Linked DNA regions of Homo sapiens: region 2 is linked to region 1. Evidence: fine-mapped expression QTL. Tissue or cell type: sun-exposed skin. Region 1 holds a variant in brackets; the other region holds the start of a gene. All regions are shown on one strand. Distances are between the middles of the regions.

Region 1 (2,683 bases):
AAAACTTCAGCTGAATTAAATTTAAAGGAGTTTAATTGAGCAATGAACAATTCATGAGTCAGGCAGCCCCCAGAATCACAGCAGGTTTAGAGAGACTCCAGGGATGCCTCATGGTAGGAACAAATTTAGAGACAAAGAAAGGGAAGTGATGTATAAAAATCGGAAGTGATGTATAGAACAGCTGGATTGGTTACAGGTTGATGTTTGCCTTATTTGAACACAATTTGAACACTTAGCAGTCTACGAGTGATTGAAGTATGGCTGTTGGGATGGGCCAAGACTCAGCTATTGTTACAGGCACATACTCCTAAATTAGGTTTTCAGTCTTGTCTGCTTATTAAGCTAGGTGACAGTTCATCCACAAGGACTCAAATATACAAGTATGGAGTCCTTCTCAGGCCCTATTTAGTTTGCTTTAACACGCCTTAACAAAACTACTTGGAAATTCCCAGGCAAAATGCTAAGGTTTAAGAAAGAGAAATTTGGTATGGAGGGCATGCAGTGCAGGACTATGTGACTTGTTCCAATGACTTATCCTGAGTTATTGTCTCATCTGGTGAATGGGCTGGCACCATCTTGGGTTTGACAGGGTTGTAAATTAGCTGCAGCCTTAAAGTAATCTCCTAGTCAAGGAGAATTCCATAGGCACCTGGATTGTCTGAAGATTCAGTCTCCAGAACTTCTAAGCAAACATAATTAGATAAACCAGCAATGCAAGGAAGTGCCTAGTGGAAAGAAGGAGAGTAAAGGTTACTATTTCATTAGTAAAAAGTTAATACAAAGGGCCACAGAAAGAAAAGGAAAAAAAAAAGTAAAAATAGAGTACTTAATTACACTCCCATGCCCACTAACCCTCATCTAGTAATAGACAGAGTTATCACATACACACATATGTAGGGGAGATTAAAAAAACTCTTCCTTTCCTCACTTAGCTTCTATGGCTGGGATACTGGAAATTAAACTGAAAAAAGACAGATGAATAAGAGAAAAACACAGTTTATTCACACATGCAGCATGAATACATTCAAGAGAAATCTGGTGATTGGTCTCTCAAAGGGGCGATTAGAACTTGGAGCTTATAGAGCATGTTAACAAAGAATGATAAAGTTGTAGAGAAGTGACAAGGAAAAGGGGCTTAGGCTTTCAGGGGTGGGAAGGTAAATATAAGGGGAAAGACAAGTTGTTTTCCTAAGGTTTGTTATGTAGATTTCATCTCTGGGCTGA[T/A]AAGAATCTGATTACTAAGAGTTATTCTGCTCTTCCTGGTACAGGAAGGGCACCTTTCTCATGGGAAATTTTATGTCCTACTTTTAGATAGAAAGGGGAAGGTCAGAAAGCTCTTCCTGCATCTGCTGTTTTTCAAGTGTCTTCAGCTCAAAATAATCCTTATGCCAATGGCATATTTTGGGGTGGCATATTCTGATTCCCTACAATAAATACACAGTGAACTAAACTCCCACCTTTAATATTATTGCTCTCTCTCATATTGGCTCTTACTTAATATTAATAATTTCAGCTAACACTTTTGGAACACATTTTATATCCCAGGCACTGTGCTAAGCATGTCATATAATCTATGTCATTTCGTTCTTTCAACAACTCCATGAGACTCAAAGGGGTTAAGTAAGCCTTCCCATGGTCACACGAATAGTAAGTGGGAAGAGACTGAAAAACGAATTTAAGCCTGCAGATTACTTCTAGTTCTCCAAAGCCTCACTAACACTGTTGGGATAAGCTCAGCCAGGAGTTGGAGTGAAGCTATCTTTTCTATGTTTGTATTTTGCTATGCCAAACACCCTTTAAGGCTAAAAGACTCCAGTTATCCATCTTAGCTTGTTGGCCTTGAGAGGTAAGGAAGGTCTTTACACACAATGGGCACTTAAATCCATTTGAATGATGACTCTGCTGCCTTCATAACTTGTCAAGGGTTGGGACTAGAGTCCAGCATTCTGAGCCGCTGGATAAATCTGTCAGAGTGATTGCTGATGGCTTGTTTTCTTTCATTTGGTGGAATATTTATAGAAAAACTTTTAGCAGGCTCCAAAATGTAATATTCTCCAGAGATACATTTTTGGACCTTGAAACTACATCCTACAATGAAAAATAAATTGGTAGGATTTCAGATAAGGCTCCAGTATTGATTTGTAAATACCTCTCAGAGTATTCAGCTATGCTTAGTTTAATTCCGTATTATTCTTATCTAATTCTACCAAAATTTTAAATAAGCTATTAACATTTTTAAAATTGTTTAAAGTAAAAAATTTTAAATTATTTTAGCAATTTTATTGCCAAAAACCAGTTGTTGAGTTATTTCAAAACTTTCTCAGAATCCAGGAGTCAAACAGGAAATTTAGAAAACACGTAGTCCAATATTGTTTTTTGAGAACAGGACAGAGGTACAGTGAGGGGTCTGGATTTGTCTGAAGTCTCAAAGCTAGTCTTTGTCTCAGTTATAAGTAAACAAATCAAATTCAATGATGTAAGGAGATGTTTTGGGAAGTAGTTGTCCTTTTTCTGAATTTATTGCTTATTTTTGTGTCTTCAATGCCTGGCATAATGCAATTACAATACAACTGCTCAAGAAACATTTACTAAGTTAGATGATGTGTCAAAAATGTGATCTCTTTTCAGAAAAAATATTTGCTTTTATTAGTTACTGATCCAAATAATTTTTAAAACAAAAAAT
Region 2 (2,683 bases), 150 kb after region 1:
TCTTAAATCCAATTGTTCATTACTGGAATATACAAATGAGTAGGGAGCCAGAAATGATAGGCACCAGAAACTGAGGTTTCCATTTCTCAATGTGGCCTGAACTAAATGAATTAAATCTCATCCTCCTATGGGACGTGAAGGAAAAGGGCTCTGGCTGGGAAGTACTGCTGTGCAGTGGTTAGTATAGTGGGTCTGAGGGTCAAATAGATTTGAGTGCAACTCCCAACCCAACTCCTACTACTAGCTTTGGGACCTCGGGTGAGTCACACAGCCCTCAGGTGCTACAGCTTCTATAAATAGTGATATAGTATTCTTACTTAAAGTGTGGCTGATCAGAGCAGCCCTTCCGTGGATCAACCACCCCATCAGAGGATCTATGTCTAGGATTGAGCCTTTTCTGCCCCAGGAGGTTCTTTCAGGTCCAGAGGCTTTCCCGTGGAGGGAAGAGAGGCAGCAATGAAATCAGCGTATAGGCGGACTGGGCTCTTTCCCCTTCATGTCTGCAGGGCAATGACCTCCTAGAGTCCGCTATGCACCCCCCACTTGCCTCTCTGGGCACTGCGAGGTGGAGCAGTTGTAGGACCAGGAAAAGCAAGAACAGAGCGTCCTCTTCGGCTACCCTACCCGGGAGTTCAGGCGCTGCGCCTGGCCCTCTGGGGCGTGTTTGACCATAACTCGCACCGCTTGCTCTTTTCCCATTTCAGCAAAGTCTTGAGCCTGTATTCTAGTACCTTTTATCAGCCTTGGGTAAGCAGCTCGCACGGGGTATATAAGGAGAATCAACTTTCTGAACTGAAAAAAATGTAAATAGTAAAGTCAGTCGTGCTTCTTCCTGCCGGTGACTGTTTACAAGAGGGAAGTCAGCGGGGCCCCCAAGAGGTCGCTGGTGGCGCAGGAACCGCATCCAGATTGTAAAGAACGGGGGAAGGAAAAAAAAAGAAAACACCCAGAAACTTTCTTCCTTGTTGCGAATAATCGCCGCCTCCCCCCCTCCGCCCCCAGCAGAAGCAGTAACGTGACACCCGAGCGAAATCCCGAGACCCGAGCGGAGAGGGAGGGGAGAGGGAGGAGAGTGCTGCGGAGCGCCGGAGGGAGAAAGGGGAGGAGAAGGAGGAAAACCCCTGTCAAGGAGGTGGAGCGAGGGGATGGTGTCCGCCTCCTGTTCCTCCCTGCCGTTTTTTAGAGAAGCCTGAACCGGGACAAAACACGCCGAGACCTACAGACACAAAGCCGGGGGGTCCACGCTGGCGCTGGAGGCGAGCCCCGGCGGCCGCAAGCGAGCCCGAGGCGCGGCGGGGCGCGGGGCGTGGGGACGCTAGCGGGCGCCGGACGGGCGCGGCGCCCCGTCACGGGCAGCGCCCCGAACCGGGGCCGGACACCTCGGCCGCTCGGGCCGCGGCGGCGGGGACCATGCCGAAGAAAGTCTCCTGAGCCCGGCAACTTCGGCCCCTCCCCGCCCCCACCCGGCTGCCCTCCGCGCGGCCCTCCCCATGTGCAGCCGGCCAGCCGGGCTCTCCTCCTCGCGGCGGATGGGTGACCTTTTCCTGGCACGGGCAGGCTGTGGGAGGCAGCGGAGCAGGCGATGAAGAAGAAGCAGCAGCATCCCGGCGGCGGCGCGGATCCCTGGCCCCATGGGGCCCCTATGGGGGGCGCCCCTCCGGGCCTGGGCAGCTGGAAGCGTCGGGTGCCCCTGCTGCCTTTCCTGCGCTTCTCCCTCCGGGACTACGGCTTCTGCATGGCCACCCTGCTGGTCTTCTGCCTGGGCTCCCTCCTCTATCAGCTCAGCGGGGGACCCCCTCGCTTCCTGCTCGACCTGCGGCAGTACTTGGGTAAGGAAGCTGGGCAGGCGCTAGGGCGGCGCCGACAGCGCAAAGTTGTGCGGCGGGGAGAGGGTCGCGGCGGGGACTTCTCGCGCTGCCACCGCGCGCCGCCGCCGCCCCGGGTCTCTCCAGGTGCTAAGCCCGTGAGCATCTGTGCCGCGGTCGGGAGCGCCTTCTTCCTCCCGCGCGTCCGACTGTCCTCACCGAGGCGGGGGCGCCGCTGGGTTGCGCTGCCGGCAGGTACCCCGGGGCGAGGCACCGCTCACCTTCCCCCCGCCCCACCTCCGCCACCCGGATCCGGACTGGGGCGGAGTGGATGGGTGTGTGGGGTGTGCCGGAGTGTGTGTATCTTCAGGCCTGGCGGCGCGGGGAGTGGCGAAGGGAAGGGAAGGTCCTCTTCGTTGCATTGTTAGTGACCGCAGTTCAGTCCCGTCCCGCGCCCCGGGGAGTGTGGGTGGGTTTAGCCCTTTGCCACCGTCCGCTCTGAGAATTCTGTCCCGCAGATCCCCCGCCTGCCCGCCGGCCCTAGTGGCTCCGCGCTGTCCCCGGGCTGGCTTGTCCCTTGGCTGCCGCTGCCCACCCCGCCGCCCGCAGCTAGCCTGGCGCGGGGAACGGGTTGCATCCAGGGGTTTGGGGATGCCCGAGGGCGCTGGTCAGCCTGGCCAGCAGTGTCGCCCCCAGTAACCCGAGGATCCTCGGCGCTGTGTGCGTCTCAAGCTCAAGTCAAAACTTGTGTGTGTGTGTGTGTGTGTGTGTGTGTGTGTGTGTGTGTGTGTGTGTGTGTGGTTTATTAGGAGAGAGGCCGCCTGTCTTTAGCAGAAGTAAGGAAGGGGTTTGACGGGAGGGAAAGAGCCGCTCCAGCG

Evidence for each region. PIP is the estimated chance that this variant, and not a neighbour inherited with it, causes the effect.
Region 2: UST starts here. The variant in region 1 is fine-mapped to the expression of UST in sun-exposed skin (GTEx, PIP above 0.99). The same link has a PIP of 0.9 or more in unexposed skin.

The regions. Positions count from the first base shown.
Region 1 is chr6:148,597,200-148,599,882 of GRCh38, forward strand. No RefSeq gene overlaps it. Among named protein-coding and RNA genes, the nearest start is that of UST, 150 kb to the right of the region's middle. RefSeq lists an enhancer at 2,601-2,683. The variant T/A (reference allele first, on the strand shown) is at 1,225.
Region 2 is chr6:148,745,849-148,748,531 of GRCh38, forward strand. It overlaps UST (uronyl 2-sulfotransferase), which reads left to right and starts at 1,182. Exons shown (of 8, transcript NM_005715.3): 1 at 1,182-1,829. The coding sequence starts at 1,583. RefSeq lists enhancers at 811-870, 931-1,010, 2,319-2,683 and silencers at 1,581-1,670, 1,971-2,140.